2 separate regions of the Homo sapiens genome follow, and region 2 is linked to region 1. Evidence: fine-mapped expression QTL. Tissue or cell type: prefrontal cortex. Region 1 holds a variant in brackets; the other region holds the start of a gene. All regions are shown on one strand. Distances are between the middles of the regions.

The links. PIP is the estimated chance that this variant, and not a neighbour inherited with it, causes the effect.
Region 2: HNF4A starts here. The variant in region 1 is the best candidate, but not a certain one, in a credible set for the expression of HNF4A in prefrontal cortex (GTEx, PIP 0.59).

What each region holds. Positions count from the first base shown.
Region 1 is chr20:44,412,877-44,420,979 of GRCh38, forward strand. It overlaps HNF4A (hepatocyte nuclear factor 4 alpha), which reads left to right. Exons shown (of 10, transcript NM_175914.5): 4 at 818-924; 5 at 1,631-1,786; 6 at 5,549-5,636; 7 at 6,845-7,000. Among named protein-coding and RNA genes, the nearest start is that of MIR3646, 8.8 kb to the left of the region's middle. The variant T/G (reference allele first, on the strand shown) is at 4,529.
Region 2 is chr20:44,351,304-44,359,406 of GRCh38, forward strand. HNF4A (hepatocyte nuclear factor 4 alpha) reads left to right here and starts at 4,396. Exons shown (of 10, transcript NM_175914.5): 1 at 4,396-4,550. The coding sequence starts at 4,502. It overlaps R3HDML-AS1 (R3HDML antisense RNA 1), which reads right to left and starts at 3,939. Exons shown (of 4, transcript NR_184036.1): 1 at 3,716-3,939; 2 at 565-647. It overlaps HNF4A-AS1 (HNF4A antisense RNA 1), which reads right to left. Exons shown (of 3, transcript NR_172878.1): 3 at 5,441-8,103. RefSeq lists an enhancer at 1,728-2,227.

The sequences.
Region 1 (8,103 bases):
GAGGCTGCGATTGCCACCGGCACACAGAGTGGCAGGTTCCAGACAGGAAGCCGGGTCTGGTGCAGCTTCAACCTCCCTCCTTTCTGAATCAGCCAAGCCTCATTCCACAGTGAGGCCTCTTGGACTCCAAGGGCTATCCCATCCACTGTCGGGATGGTGGAAGGATCATCTTCTATCTCAGGCCAGGACTGACCCAGATGGGAGCAGGCAGTGGAGCCTGGGGCCCCGGTGGGCGTAGGCTCCAGATCCCTCAGTGCCTGGAACAGAGCAGCAGTGGGAGGGAGGGAGACAGCGCCTGGCCTTGCTGATGCTGAGGTTAGTCTGGAGTACATGCAGCTCCTGCTGATGGACAAAACCATCAAGGCAGTTGGAGCCCCCAGATCCTCTTGTTCAGGAATCCCCAGGCCATCTCCTTGTCACCCAGAGTAATTTGTTTTGCTTGCTTTACTCACTTTCATTTGGAAAGAAAGGGACCCTTTTGTAGACCAGAGCTTGAACATCTTTAAGCTAGTCAGATCCCCTCCTCAATGCTCAAGACCAATTTTAAACCCATAGCCGAGTCTTCACTGTCTTGCGCGCCCCTGCTGATGGGTGGATCACTCTTATAGCCTCTCCATTGTGTTGGGGGCAGTTGTGATATGTGGAAAGTTCTTCCACCAGCTGAGTTAGAGGCCATCTCCCCTCATTCCACATGCTGATGTGGGCCTGTTCTCTGGACACCCCCCACCTCCTGCTCCCACTCCTCATCAGTCACAGACACCCCCACCCCCTACTCCATCCCTGTTCTCCCTCCTCACCTCTCTGTGCCTCCTCACAGCCGTCCAGAATGAGCGGGACCGGATCAGCACTCGAAGGTCAAGCTATGAGGACAGCAGCCTGCCCTCCATCAATGCGCTCCTGCAGGCGGAGGTCCTGTCCCGACAGGTACCGGGGTGATCCTGCCACCCACCCAGGGATCCCCCACACTACAGAGGAGCTCACCTCCTCCACCTCCATTCTCCCCAGCCAGGCCCTGGAGCAGCTGACGGGAGGGGCCTCAGATATTACAGAAGGGACACTGAGTCCGGTTTCACATGGCCCAGTTTGCAGCAAGGGCAGGAATCGAACCTGGCGCCCTGGGGCACTTTCTAATTCATCCTACTGCCTGCATCCCACAGGCCAAGCAGAGTCTTCACCTTCACTGAGGGCCTGCGATCAGCTCAGCTCCGAGAGAACAGAGCAGTGGCTCAGTGGAGAGAGGTGGCAAAGTGGGGCCCAGCCCTTCCCTTGCTGAGTGACCTTGGGCAAGTCACAGCACCTCTCTGAGCCATGGTTGCCTCATTGTCAGAAAAGGATGATGATTTTTTGCCCTGCTTCTCCTCTAAGGCTGACAGACTCCTTGGGGCTCTAAAGCTGACAGAGGAGGGGGCAGGGGGCAGGTAACAGGTGAAGGCACAGAGGGAGCCCTTCTCCCTCATCCCTGCCTCCTCCCTCCCTCCGTTTTTACCCTGAGCTTCCTTCAGAGCTGGAGGGCACCCACTATCCAGCCCCCTCCCCACATCTGATTCCAGGGAGGGGGCTCTGTGCAGGGGACAGAGAGTGCGGGAGGGCCCGGACATCTCCAGCATTTTCTTCCCTGTATCTCTCGAAGATCACCTCCCCCGTCTCCGGGATCAACGGCGACATTCGGGCGAAGAAGATTGCCAGCATCGCAGATGTGTGTGAGTCCATGAAGGAGCAGCTGCTGGTTCTCGTTGAGTGGGCCAAGTACATCCCAGCTTTCTGCGAGCTCCCCCTGGACGACCAGGTGAGGATGGGCGTGGATGGTGGGCAGTAGTGGGCAGTGGGCGGGGCAGCCAGGGGGCTGCTGGCCCACCTGGGATATAGCCGTGGACTGGCTTGATTTTATTTTATTTAACAAAATATGTAGTGCACACACGTGTCTGAAACTTTAAATCACCTTACAAATATTAACTCAGTTAGCTCCTCCAACAACTCTATGAGGTAGGTACTAAGGTACTATTATTACTGCCATCTCATAGGTGAGGAGATTGGGGCACAGAGAGGTTAAGTAACCTGCTCAAGGTCACATAGCTACTATCCAGCATAGCTGGGATTAGAACCTGGCAGGAAGCTCCAAAGTCCAAGCTCCTGACCATTGTACCTGAGGCTCTCCCAGGGGGATGTTGACAGGGACCCTAGGACAGGGATCAGGAGATTTTGGCTTAAGCTATGGCTCTAAGACTGGTTGTCTGCCTAATCCTGGGCAAATGAGTTCCTCTCTCTGAGCCTCAGTGTTCTCTTATCTGTAAAGTGGAAATGATAATATCCACTTTAGAGTGTGGTTGGGAGGATTGAGGACATTGGTGTCTGAAAAGTACAAAAATCAGGTGATGGGGCAAGCTGCACAGTGGCCAGACCAGAGCTGGTCTCCCTAAACATTAGTTTCTTCCTTGTTTCCCACCAAAACGATTGAACTCAGCATCGTGTTTCCCACCAAAACAATTGAACTGAGCATCATATTTCCCACCGTACATTTTTTTGGAATACTGAAATGTCCCTAGGGGGAAGAAAGGGTTGAAGGAAGGTGGCGTGTGTCTGAGGACAGATGAATTTCGGAGATGCCACCTATGAAGCTCCTGCCCAGAGCACCCCTGGGCCTCCAAAGAGATGTTACCCATCTGGGGAAGAGGAGCTGGGCTGGGCCACCTTCTCAGCTTCGGAGACAGACTCTGGTGCATTCGCTTACCCGTTTCGCACCTTTGCATAAGACACTGACAATGCATGTGAGTCTGTGAAAGCTTCTGAGAAGTCTCGTCCAGGCAGTTGTTTGACTTTGCAGAGGCCGAGGCTTCTCAAACTCCTTCGGCAAGATTCTCCTGGAACACCTATTAATACTGCACATTGGGACACTGTGAAAACGCTGGTTTGGCTTGTCCCCAGCCTCATACAGGGGCTGGACCCGGGGCCCTCTTCCATGGTTCCTCCTTCCATTAGCAGAGTCGACAGGGCAAGGATCTTGGACAATCCGCCCCTACCCTCTCCCCTGTTCCTTGTGCTCTGGCCCCAGTCCCCTCTGCTGGAGTCTCTACATTAATGTTTAATCCCTCCTGTTCCTTCCCAGGGGCTTAGCAGGGCAACAAGATACCCCCAACCTGAGCAATTGTTAACCTCGATTTCCCACCCAAACCTCCCTGGCTGGGGCTCAGAGCATTCTCAGAGAGCAATGATGGGTGGCCAATAACACAGGACAATCATTAACACACCACCCCGACCTCCCGGCCCACCCCCCAGAACAGCTGCCATATCAGGGGGTTGAACCTGGGATCAGAAGGGTTCCCAGCTCCCCATTCCTGGTATATGAGGAGCCCAGCTTGCCCAATGCAGGTGGGGCATCCCTGGGAAAGTCGGGGGCATTGTCCTCCAAAGGGCTTCCCAATTTTGTTGACATTGCCCCAGAAACTAGATTCCCAGTTGGTGTGCTTCTTGGGCCTGGATACAATTGCAGAAAGAGATTGGGGCTTAGAGAGAGACAGAAATTTGCCTGAAGTCACAGAGCAAGTTAGCGACAGAACTGGGATTCAAATCCAGGTCTTCCGCTTCGCGATGTGAAGGCCACTGGAGTGACTGATGAAAGACTTGCACAGTGCCCAGTGCGCAGGAGGCGCTTGGCAATCAGCATCCTCGGCCTCCCTCCATACTGGTCATGGAAAGTGGATTTTCCCTCCCAGGCAGTTTCCTCTTTTTCTGTTTTCCTCACAGGTTTCTATCCATGGGGAATAGAAGGGGCAAGGACAAGTGGCTGCCCAGGAGCAGCTAGAGCTAGAGAGGAAGTCAAGATGTTTGCTCATTCATTCATTCATTTCCCCTTTCCTTCCTTCATTCAAATATTTATTGAAGGCTTATTTTGTGCCAAATATCTTCAGACAAATGCCTTCTTTCCTCTAACAACAATTTCACCTCCTTAGAGGCCTTCTCTGACCTCCCCATCTAACGTAGCCATTCTTGCCCCATTGCTCTCACCATCCTTTCCACTCCCCTCCCTCCCTCCTTCCCTTCCTCCCACCTTTTCTCCTTCCTTCTTTCCTTTATGCTGTGATCACCCTGTGTCCTCTGTACTTATTTGTTCTCTACTATCTGTTCATCCTCTCTCCTATAAATGTTAGTTCGATGAGATTAGAGACCTTGTCTCTCGTTTTTAAACATTGTGCCTCCATTGTCTTAAAAAGTGTCTGGCATTTAGTAGGCATTTAGGATTTGATAACTGAAAGAATGAACAATCAAATTAATGAACAAACAAAGGATTTTAACCTTCTAGTTTGGCTTGCTATGGAACCTCCAAACTCCCTAACCCAACCTTGAAGATGAGAAGATGAGATCCTTGAGGCTACCAGCCTGGTGCTGTTTTGTTTCAAGCCATCCTTTGGTCCTCAGGCAAGCACTAAAGCAGATGGCTCTCAGTGGGCTGGCTATGTCCTTCTGTGAGCTTGCTGGGCCCCTACCTATGACTCCAGTCTTAGAAGTCTTGCCTTGTACCCCCTGCAGAGAA[T/G]GGTTTCATCAAGCTGATTCTCTGCCAGGGGCCAGTGCTCATACATTTGCTCTGAGAAGGACCAGCCCTGAGACCTAACATCCACATCCAAGTTCTTGTAATGCCCTCTCAGAATCCTGGAGTCCTGCAATGTCGATCCCTGGAGGGATCTGCCAGACCAATGATTTCCCAAACAGAATTGCACTTCAGAGTCAACTATGGAGCTTTTTAAACACAGATCCCTGGGCCCACCCTAAACATACAAAATCAGGATCAGAATCTCAGGGCCTAAGAATCTGTATTTTCAGGCCGGGCGCAGTGGTTCACACCTGTAATCTCAGCACTTTGGGAGGCTGAGTTGGGCTGATCACCTGAGGTCAGGAGTTCGAGATCAGCCTGGCAATATGGTGAAACCCCGTCTCTACTAAAAATAAAATTAGCCAGGCATGGTGGTGCACGCCTGTAGTCTCAGCTACTCTGGAGGCTGAGGCACGAGAATCACTTGAACCTGGGAGGCGGAAGCTGCAGTGAGCCGAGATCATGCCACTGCACTCCAGCCTGGGTGACAGAGTGAGACTCTGTCTCAAAAAAAAAAAAAAAAATAGAATCTGTATTTTTACAAAGCACCCTTCATAATTCTCCATAGCTGGTCCATGGGTGGGAATTTGGGACCCACAGTTTTGGAACTTTTTGGGATCATAGACCTTTTTGAGAATCTCAAAAAAGAAAAAAAAAGCACACAGAATGTTGCTTACAGTTTCATCAGGCACACAGAAGAGGCCCAGCACGAAGCAGTTTCTTGCCCAAGGACACAGCAGTTCAAGGACAGAGTCAGCGCGAGGTCTCTCAGCTCTGAGCACATGTTCTTTCCCCTTCCAGGTTTCTAGTTTTATGGGTAGTAGTTTTATGATGCCCATTTCACAGTTCAGGCAGGTAGAGGCAGAGGGGAGCATTAAGCTGACTTGCCCAGCGTCACTGAGTTGGCTACGGGCAGCCTTCCCAAGGGTACAGATGGCAAACACTGTTCCTTCTCTCTTTCAGGTGGCCCTGCTCAGAGCCCATGCTGGCGAGCACCTGCTGCTCGGAGCCACCAAGAGATCCATGGTGTTCAAGGACGTGCTGCTCCTAGGTGAGGCGGCTGCCTGCCCTGGCCAGGGCTCCAGGGAGGGTATGCCTAGCATGGCACTCACCCAGGCAAGGAGATTCACATGGTGGCATGCAAGGGTGAGGGAGACTAGTCAGGAGTGGCCCTGTCCTCAGGCTTGCATTAGAGGGCTCCAGGACTCAGTTTTCAACTGGGTACCCCACTCAGATGCAAGGAAATGTGGATGCAAGTCACCAAATTCCCAGCATTGAAGTCAGAGCACGATCAGGGTTATCCCTGGAATTACCTGTGCATCCTTTTTTCTTTTGACAGAGTCTTGCTCTGTCACTCAGGCTGGAGTGCAATGATGTGATCTCGGCTCACTTCAGCCTCCACCCGCCACGTTCAAGCAATTCTCCTGCCTCACCCTCCAGAGTTGCTGGGACCACAGGCGTGCACCACCACACCCAGCTAATTTTTGTATTTTTAGTAGAGACAGGGTTTCACCATGTTGACCAGGCTGGTCTCAAACTCCTGGCCTCAAATAATCCACCCGCCTCAGTCTCCCAAAGTGCTGGGATTACAGGTGTGAGCCACCGCGCCTGGCCTACCTGTGCATTCTGATGTTCTTTCTGGAGTAGGAGCAAGAGGTGGTTAAGAATGGCACAAAGCCCCAGCCCGCGTCACCTGTGCCTTCATGGCATAGTTATTATTTTAAACGCTTGTACAGCACACACTGTGTGCCAGGGACTGTGCTCACTGCTTTGCAAACACTACCTATTTTAATATAACAATGCTATGAGGGAAGCTCGATTATTTATCCTCATCTTATAGATAAGAAAACTGAGGCACAGAGAGGTTAAGTAACTTATCCAACTATAACCAGCTATCAGGGGCAGAGCCATTTAAGCAGGGCAGTGCAGTTCCAGAATCTGGTCCTTTAACCTTGATGCTTTGGTGCCTATCAGGTGACCTTTGAATGTCATCGATCTTGTGAGTCATGTTGGTAAATGGAGCTTGGGTCATGTGAAAGAGGTCCTAGAAAGCCAAGTTCCAAGCTCAGCCGGATGACTCAAGGCAGCTTATCTTCTGAATCTGGGCCTCAGCTTCCTTACCTGTGAAATGGGAGTCACCATCCCTGCAGGTCCTCCTCCCACAGGCACCAGCTATCTTGCCAACTTAAAAGCCAAAACTAGAGGAGAGGGGTCAACCCAAGGTGACTTCCCATCCTCCCTCCCTCCCAACCCTTCCAGGCAATGACTACATTGTCCCTCGGCACTGCCCGGAGCTGGCGGAGATGAGCCGGGTGTCCATACGCATCCTTGACGAGCTGGTGCTGCCCTTCCAGGAGCTGCAGATCGATGACAATGAGTATGCCTACCTCAAAGCCATCATCTTCTTTGACCCAGGTACAGTGCACACCTCCTAAGCCATCCCTGACTCTCTCTCCAGAACGCTCTGCCAGACTTCTCCTATTGGGTTCTGTACACTGAGTTCACAGCCTCATCTCATGTTAACGACAGCCAGGAGAGGCCGTTTTCATTTAACAGATGAGGCAAGTCAAGATTTGAAGAGACAATATGGCCGGGCGCAGTGGCTCACACCTGTAATCCCAGCACTTTGGGAGGCTGAGGCGGGCGGATCACCTGAGGTCAGGGGTTCAAGATGAGCCTGGCTAACATGGAGAAACCCCATCTCTACTAAAAATACAAAAATTAGCCAGGCATGGTGGTGCACGCCTGTAATCCCAGCTATTCGGGAGGCTGAGGCAGGAGAATTGCTTGAACCTGGGAGGCGGAGGTTGCAGTGAGCCAAGATCCCGCCACTGCATTCCAGCCTGGGTGACTCCATCTCAAAAAAACAAAAACAAAGGGAGGATATGACTTGACAGGGCACCCTGACTCCAAAGGCCTGGGCTTTCCCTTCTTTTACTTCTTCCCTCCATCCTTCTTTCTCTTTACTTCCCATCTTCCTCTTTTCTTTCATATTTGCTTCTTTTCCTCAAAAAAATTTATCAAAATAATATCTAGAACCGGATGTGGTGGCTCACATCTGTAATCCCAGCACTTTGGGAGGCAGAGGCAGGAGGATCACTTCAGGCCAGGAGTTCGAGGCCAGCCTGGCCAACATAACAAGACCTCGTCTCTATAGAAACTAAAAAAAATTAGCCAGGGATAGTGGTGAGCACCTGCAGTCCCAGCTACTCGGGAAGCCAAGGTGAGCACCTGCAGTCCCAGCTACTCAGGAGGCCAAGGTGGGAGGATCTCTTGAGCCCAGGAGGTGGAGGCTGCTGTGAGATGTGATTGCACCACTGCACTCCAGTCTGGGTGACAAAGCAAGACCTCATCTAAAAAATAATAATAAATAAATAAATAAATCTACACATACTTAAAATGCAAATACTTCTCCCCATCCTACTTTTCCAGCTCTAAGTCTACTCCCCAAGAGAAGCATGTCTGATTATTTTAATTGTTTCTTCTGGCAGTTTCCTCAACAATTCTAAATGAAAGAC
Region 2 (8,103 bases), 62 kb before region 1:
CCAATGAAAGGAATTCCACTGGGTGCGGCGGCTCACACCGGTAATCCCAGCACTTTGGGAGGCTGAGGCAGGTGGATCACCTGAGGTCAACAGTTCGAGACCAGCCTGGCCAACATGGTGAAACTCTGTCTCTACTAAAAATACAAAAATTAGCCAGGAGTGGTGGCTCGCGCCTATAATCGCAGCTACTCGGGAGGCTGAGGCAGGAGAATCGCTTGAACCTAGGAGGCGGAGGTTGCAGTGAACAGAGATCCAGCGACTGCATTCCAGCCTGAGGACAGAGTGAGACTCTGTCTCTAAAAAAAAAAAAAAAAAGAAAGAAAGAAAGGAAACCCGCTTTCATTCGTCTCATAACAGTCAACCAGTTTCTGGGCAGTCTTTGAGGACTCGTGATTCGCTCCCTGAGTTGGGCACATTTCAGGCCCATGATTTTGAAAAACATTGAAATTGGCTTGTGGACATCCGCCCCCCCACCCCCACTGCATGGTACTGGAGCCACGACAGAGTCCAGGCCCCCCTTTTTACAGATGGGTACACTGAGGCTCAGAGCAGGGTGTAACTTACCCAGAGCTGCACAGCTTGTCTTTGATGGCCAAGGTTAGAGCTCAGTCTCTCACAGCTCCTTCCTGCTTCCTCGGCTCTCAGAACTGAGAAGTGAAAACCAAAGTTGGCCTGAGGGGACTCTCTCTGGGCCTTTTTTTCTCTATCTCTGCCTCGGTCTCTCTCTCTTTTGTCTACTGTCCGTTCTATCTCTGCCTGTTTTTGTTTTGGTCTCTGCATCTCTGATTCTTTTTCTCCCATATAATCTTACTCTCATTCCAATAAACCATTTCCCCTCTCCCCCCACCATCCCACCCAGGGATCATAGCACACAAAAGTCCTTTTGTCTCCAGAGATAGTAAAATCTCCTCCCTCAGACCTTGCCCTGCAGCTGGGGCCCACTCCCTGCCTGGCTGGAGAGCTTTTCCTTTGAAGACCCGGGATGGAAAACAGGCCCTTTTCCATGGAGTCCCTACGTTGTCCTGGATGGAATGAATTTTCTCATCCTGTGCATGTCACCCCCTCCCATTCCACCCCCAATAAAGTCTTTTGAGATCCAGTGTAGTGGCTCTTTCTGGTCCCTCCCTCTCTTGGCTCCCAAGAGGGTCAAAACACAAGGAATGGGAACTGGGTGGGGGAAGATGGGTGAGAGGAAAACCAGCTCAACTGGAAGACCAGGGGAAGGAACTAACAGCGCTTTGGGCCCCGCTCTGCAGAAGGCTAGATCAATGCACAAGTGCATGCACGTATACTATTGCTCCACTTTACAGATGAGATAAATGAGGCATGGGGTGAGTACTAGCTTCCAAATGCTGGAAATGAGTGAAATAAGAGAATTAAGAGGTTGGGCGTGGTGGCTCATGCCTGTAATCCCAGCACTTTGGGAGGCCAAGGCGGCAGATAGCTTGAGGCCAGGAGTTCAAGACCAGTCTGGGCAACACAGTGAAACCCTGTCTCTACTAAAATTACAAAAATTAGCCAAGCATGGTGGGGCACGCCTGTAATCCCAGCTACTCAGGAGGCTGAGACACCAGAATTGCTTGAACCCAGGAAGTGAAGGTTGCGGTGAGCCAAGACTGCACCACTGCACTCCAGCCTGGGTGACACAGCAAGTCTGTGTCTCAAAAAAAAAAAAAAAAAGAGAGAGAGAATTAAGGACACTGTTGTGAGTTCATTGTTCTTAGACTATATCTTTCCTACTTTATTTTTTGGAATGGGCTCTCGAAGGCAGTATCAGAAATGGAAAACCGAAGAGATCACGTGGAATTCCCACCTTACAGTGGCACTTTTGGCTTGTCTCTTCCCTGGCACAGTGGCTCATACCTGTAATCCCAGCACTTTGGGAGGCCAAGGAAGGTGGATCACCTGAGTTCAGGAGTTCCAGACCAGCCTGACCAACATGGTGAAACCCCGTCTCTACTAAAAATACAAAATTAGCCAGGCGTGGTGCTGTGTGCCTGTAATCCCAGCTACTTGGGAGGCTGAGGAAGGAGAATCGCTTGAACCCAGGAGGCGGAGGTTAAAGTGAGCCGAGATGGCGCCATTGCACTCCAGCCTGGACAACAAGAGCAAAACTCTGTCTCAGAAAAAAAAAAAAAAAAAAAAGAACAGATTTAATGAAACTTCTTGAATCCCAGTTTTTACATCTGTAAAATGGGAATATTGACAGTGACAATTCAATGACGTTAAGAATATACAATGCTGACAAACTAAAGAGTTCATAAATGCCAGTGGTTGTCATCCTCATTATCCTGGTGCTCAGGAAGGCAATGTGAGACCTGTTGAAATAGCACGGGCTTTGGGGTCAGATGATGCTGAATTCCAGTTCTGTGTTGGCTCCTTCGTAGTTATGTGACCTCATGACGCCACTTCATGCAGGGGGTTACGTACCACTTAAATCTCCAGAACATTTTGGGAAATTGACATAGGGTTAGCAAACCTCCCCCACCCCCATATAAAAATATTAATACTTTTTTTTTTTCTGAGATGGAGTCTGGCTCTGTCGCCAAGGCTGCAGTGCAGTAGTGCAATCTTGGCTCACTGCAACATTTGCCTCCTAGGTTGAAACGATTCTCCTCCTTCAGCCTCCCGAGTAGCTGAGATTACAGGTGCTCGCTGCCACACCCAGCTAATTTTTGTATTTTTAGTAGAGATGGGATTACACCGTGTTGGCCAGCCTGGTCTCAAACTCCTGACCTCAAGTGATCCACCTGCCTCAGCCTCCCAAACTGCTGGGATTACAGGCATGAGCCACTACACCCGACCAAGAATATTAATACTTTTTTTTAAAAAATATCGAAGTTATTTATTTATTTATTTATTTATTTATTTATTTATTTATTTTGAGATGGAGTCTCTCTCTGTTGCCCAGGCTGGAGTGCAGTGGCACGATCTTGGCTCACTGCAACCTCTGTCCCCCTGGTTCAAACGATTCTCTTGCCTCAGCCTCCCGTTTGCCACCATGCCCGGCTAATTTTTTTATTTTTGGTAGAGACGGGGTTTCACCATGTTGGTCAGGCTGGCCTCAAACTCCTGACCTCGTGATCGGTGCGCCTCGGCCTCCCAAAATGCTGGGGTTACAGGCGTGAGCCACTGCACCCGGCCCCAAAATCTAACGTTTGTTATCACTGTTGTTTTAGAAAAGAAAGGACATTTTAATGCAACCCATGCCCATCTGTAGGGGCTGAAGGTCCCTCTGAGGTGATTGATAAAGCTGAAAAAAGAGACTATGGGAAGAGAAGAGGAATATTATCAATTAGCTATTTTAGAAGCAGGGCAAACTATGAGCTAGGTATTCCTATAAGGAAATGAAATAATTTACTAAAAAACATACAGCAAGAAAATAATAGAGCTGGAGTTTTCTGATTTTTCTGAGTCCAGAATTTGTTTCACTGTTCTCATTTCAGCTCTCTCTAACAGGATGAATGACCTTGATTTCAGAATCCCCAAGCAGGTGGTGAGATCCAAAACTGAGACAAAAGAAACGGGGCTGTTCCAAAAAAAAAGCTAGGTGGCAGGTGTCTAACATGCCAGGGAGCTAAAACAGAGTGTGTGAGTTTCAGCAGCAGGTTGAATTTAGAATGGGGAAGGAGACCAGAGGAGACGCCAGACAGGATGACTTTGTCCCATTGGCCTGGAGGCAGCCCCATGTTTCTCCACCCCTCATATCACTCACCAGTTTGTAATAGTATCTTTGAATGACGATCTGATTAAGGTCCGTCTCCTCCATTAGTCCACAAGTTTCGGGGGTACATCTACTTTGCTCATTTCCATATCCCCAGAGTCTAGCACAAGGCCTGGTACATAGTAGGTGCTCAATAAATATGTTAGATGAAAGGAAGATAACACCTCTATGTACTAGCAGTGAGACTCCAGGCATGCAATTTCTCTCTGTCCTTCAGTCCCTTCATCTCAAGGTTTAATTTAAATATGGTAACGCCTGTATGCAACTCCCAGCATCCAGTAGGCACTCACTAAACACAGTTCTCCACCCTCCTTTTTTCCTCTGCCCCTCCCTCGGTTTTCCCACTACTTCCTGCATGGTGACACACCCATAGTTTGGAGCCATAAAACCCAACCCAGGTTGGACTCTCACCTCTCCAGCCCCTTCTGCTCCGGCCCTGTCCTCAAATTGGGGGGCTGATGTCCCCATACACCTGGCTCTGGGTTCCCCTAACCCCAGAGTGCAGGACTAGGACCCGAGTGGACCTCAGGTCTGGCCAGGTCGCCATTGCCATGGAGACAGCAACAGTCCCCAGCCGCGGGTTCCCTAAGTGACTGGTTACTCTTTAACGTATCCACCCACCTTGGGTGATTAGAAGAATCAATAAGATAACCGGGCGGTGGCAGCTGGCCGCACTCACCGCCTTCCTGGTGGACGGGCTCCTGGTGGCTGTGCTGCTGCTGTGAGCGGGCCCCTGCTCCTCCATGCCCCCAGCTCTCCGGCTGGGTGGGCTTGGCCATGGTCAGCGTGAACGCGCCCCTCGGGGCTCCAGTGGAGAGTTCTTACGGTAAGTGGGGCTGGGGGAAGACTGGACAGGGCGGGACTGCGGTCAGCTTTGGGAGGCCATGGGACACCTCCCCGTGTGTTTCTTACGGGCCCAAAGCTCCTCCTGGAGCTCCTCTGGAAGGGCAGGAAGCCCCACGGAGGCAATGTGACCGCTTCCCTAAGCTCTCAAGCCGGGGCATGGCCTGCTTGGTGCGAGAAGTGCTGGGAGGGGCCGAGAAGCCCTGGGGCAGAGGCTTGGCTCATTTTGTCTGTCCAGAGGCCTTCCTGGGAATGCATCTCAGGGGTCTTTCCAAAACCCCACAGAGGGTGGGGCTTGGAAGCACCGTCCTGTTTCGATGCGGGGCAAATTGAGGTCCACCAGGAGAGGCTTGCTGGGCCTAGGTCACGTTGCTGGTGCATTATCAAGCTGGGCGTGGGACCGGGCAGCTCGGTCGCTCCGCACCTCCGTTGGCTCTGGATAATGGGGAGGAGGTAGAAAGCGCCGCGCAGGGTGGAGCGTTGGAAAATGAGAATATCTTGTGCGGACGTGTGAAACTCAGATGCAGGGCTAGAAAGCATGTGTTACTGAGAGTGAAAGGCTCAGGCTCACTCCTTAGGGTGACCCCCACATTGGAAGCAACCCAATGTCCCTCAGCAGAGGGAAGACGGGTAAATAAAGCGTGAGACGTCTTTACAGTGGAATGCTATCCCATTGTTCAAGGAAACAACGCACATCTGTGTGTGACAGGGAAGAACCTCTCAGTTAAATTAAGTGAAAACGGTACACTGAAGAACTGTGTAGTTGCTGATAGCGAAACGGATATAGATGTATATATGTACACACGCGTATACGTGTACATTCCACGCATAGAAAATTCGTGGAATGACACAATAAAATTGGTGACAGGTTTGTTTCTGAGGAGGGAAATTCAAGAGAATGTTTTATCTTTTGGGGACACATTTTGGATTTTTTAAAAGTTGGGTGCCTTTTATAAACCTGTTCAAATCACACACCCGCACAGAACTTGGTCTCTGGAATCCAGCAGACCTCGGGGTCTAGTTGTGACTCTGTCACACGGCTCAACATTCACGTGCCTCTTGCTTTCTTTCTGAAGTGGAGACAGGACTAGGATGTGTCTTAAGATCATGGTGGATGCCGTGGGGAACAAGGATGTAAAGCCCTTGATACCACGTGCATTGCAAAGACACAATCAACATTTATGTCATCAATTGCTGAGGACAGAGGGCCAGGGAATGACAGAATCAGGGCCTGATCTCCTGACTCTAGTCAGGAAGAATCTTCTTTGCTTTGACCCCCATCAAACAGGAATATGTGATGCACTGGAAATGGCAGAGGCTGAAGAAACCAACAGCCTGGGAACCCATCCCACACACCAGCTGTGTGACCTTGGGCAAGACATTTCCCCTCTCTGAACCTATTTCCTCATCTGTAAAATGAAGATAACAACAGGACCTATCTCCCAGAGAGCGGGGAGATTAGAGGAGATAGCATAGAGGAGATTAAGGGTGAGGCCACCCTTAATCCACAATTTTAAGACCTGGAGTATAGATGCCAATGGATGACTTGGTTGAACCTGTGGCTAGGGGAAGACATTGTCTCTCAAAGGGGCCAGACAGCTTCTGGGGAAGGACAGCCCAGGTCATAAGGCTAAGCTAGGGGTGAACAGAAGGCCCCACAGTGTCTCTTAAAGGATGATACAATAATATAACCTGACAGCCTTTCACTGTCTCCCACGTCTCTGCACCTTGTAGGATGTCCTCATGTCTCTTCATCTCTGCTCCTGTGTCATACTCATTATATAGCAAACATTCAGCAATTATTAGAATGGTTGCTTCTATCGACAGGTAGGTGGGTGAATGGATGGATGAATGGGTTAGTGAATGTTCTACTATTATCTCTCAGACAGCTGTTTCATTTTCCAAACGGCTGTCTGAGATAAATAATATTGTAATCTCCAAGGACAGAAGAAAAAACTAAGGTTCAAGATTAAAAAAAAAACACAAACAAACAAAAAATGTCATCTGACTCGAGACTTGACACAATCCAGCTGTTGCTGGCCCTCTGCTCTAGGCCACAGATATGGCTGGACAGAGAAAGGAGAACTCCAGTGACCTTGCAGTACATCCACAAAAAATGAGCACTTTTGTCCTGGGGCAGTGGAACATTCACTGCAGTGTATGTGTGCCTATGTGTATGTGTGTGAGAGTGGCTGAAAGACCCTGATTTGATATTTTTGATAAAATACACCTGGGTTAGCATCCTAGATCTACCTTATTTAAAAAAAAAAAACAAAACAAAAAACTGTGTGGTCTTGTGAGTCAAATCATTACCCCTCTCTGAGCTTCACATGTTTTATCTGTAAAATGAGCTACTGAAGTCTGCTGGAAGGCTCCAGAAAAAAAAAAAAAAGAAAAGAAAAATTTGCTTTCTGAGAAAAGAAACAAGTGCTCCGAGGAAACAAAACCCCTCTCCCAGGCTGGGTGCAGTGGCTCACGCCTGTAATCCCAGCACTTTGGGAGGCTGAGGCGGGCAGATAACTTGAGATTAGGAGTTCGAGACCAGCCTGGCCAACATGGCAAAACCCCGTCTCTACTAAAAATACAAAAACTAGCCGGGTATGATGGCACACGCCTGTAATTCCAGCTACTTGGGAGGCTGAGGCATGAGACTCACTTGAACCTGGGAGGTAGAGGTTGCATTAAGCTGAGATCATGCCACTGCCACTCCAGCTTGGGCAGCAGAACAAGACTCTATCTCAAAAAAAACAAAACAAAACAAAAAAACAAAAAACAAACAAAAAATCTTCTTCTGGGGTTCTCTAATGGGGATAACATTAATCATCTCCTAAGATGACTATAGTAGAGGTGCATTGGTGGGTCAGGGACATGGCACATAGCAGAGCCTCAGTTAGAGGCAGAGGAAGACATGGCTGTTGTGAGGATCAAATGGAAGGATCCATGAGTGCTTAGAACAGTCCTGGGTCCAGAGCAAGCACGCAAGAAATCCTCGTTGTGGTTTCATGTTTTTGAGCTTTAGCAGGATTCTAAAGAGCTGCTCTTTGGTGTGGTGATGCTGGGTGGACTTGGCCCTCCCTGGACTTCCGGTGCTTCCACGGCACACTGGTTTTGGCTTTGCGGTTCTCGTCATCGCTCTGATCAGATAGTTGCTGGTGTGAATTGTGGTGTCTGGCTGCCCCACCAGACTATAAACTCCGTGAGTTCTGGGACCTGGGTAGTTTGTTCAGCCTTGTTTGTCTCACTATGTCTCACATGGTGACTGGCACAGAAGAAATGCTCAATAAGCATTTGTTGGATGAGTGAAATGATGGGCTTAAAACAGCGCTACAATGATGATCATCAATGTCAGCCAGATCCCACTCTCTTGCCTTCCTTCCTCTCTGCCCTCCTCACTGCGTTGTCTTTGGTCCTTGTATTTGCCCCATTATAACCCAAACTGGCTGTCCCAGCTTCAGCTGTCATGTCTGCACTTACGTGTCTGAAGCTGGAGGCAGGAGGAGAAGAGGTTTTCCTCAGTGCCCTTGTTTCTTTTATCC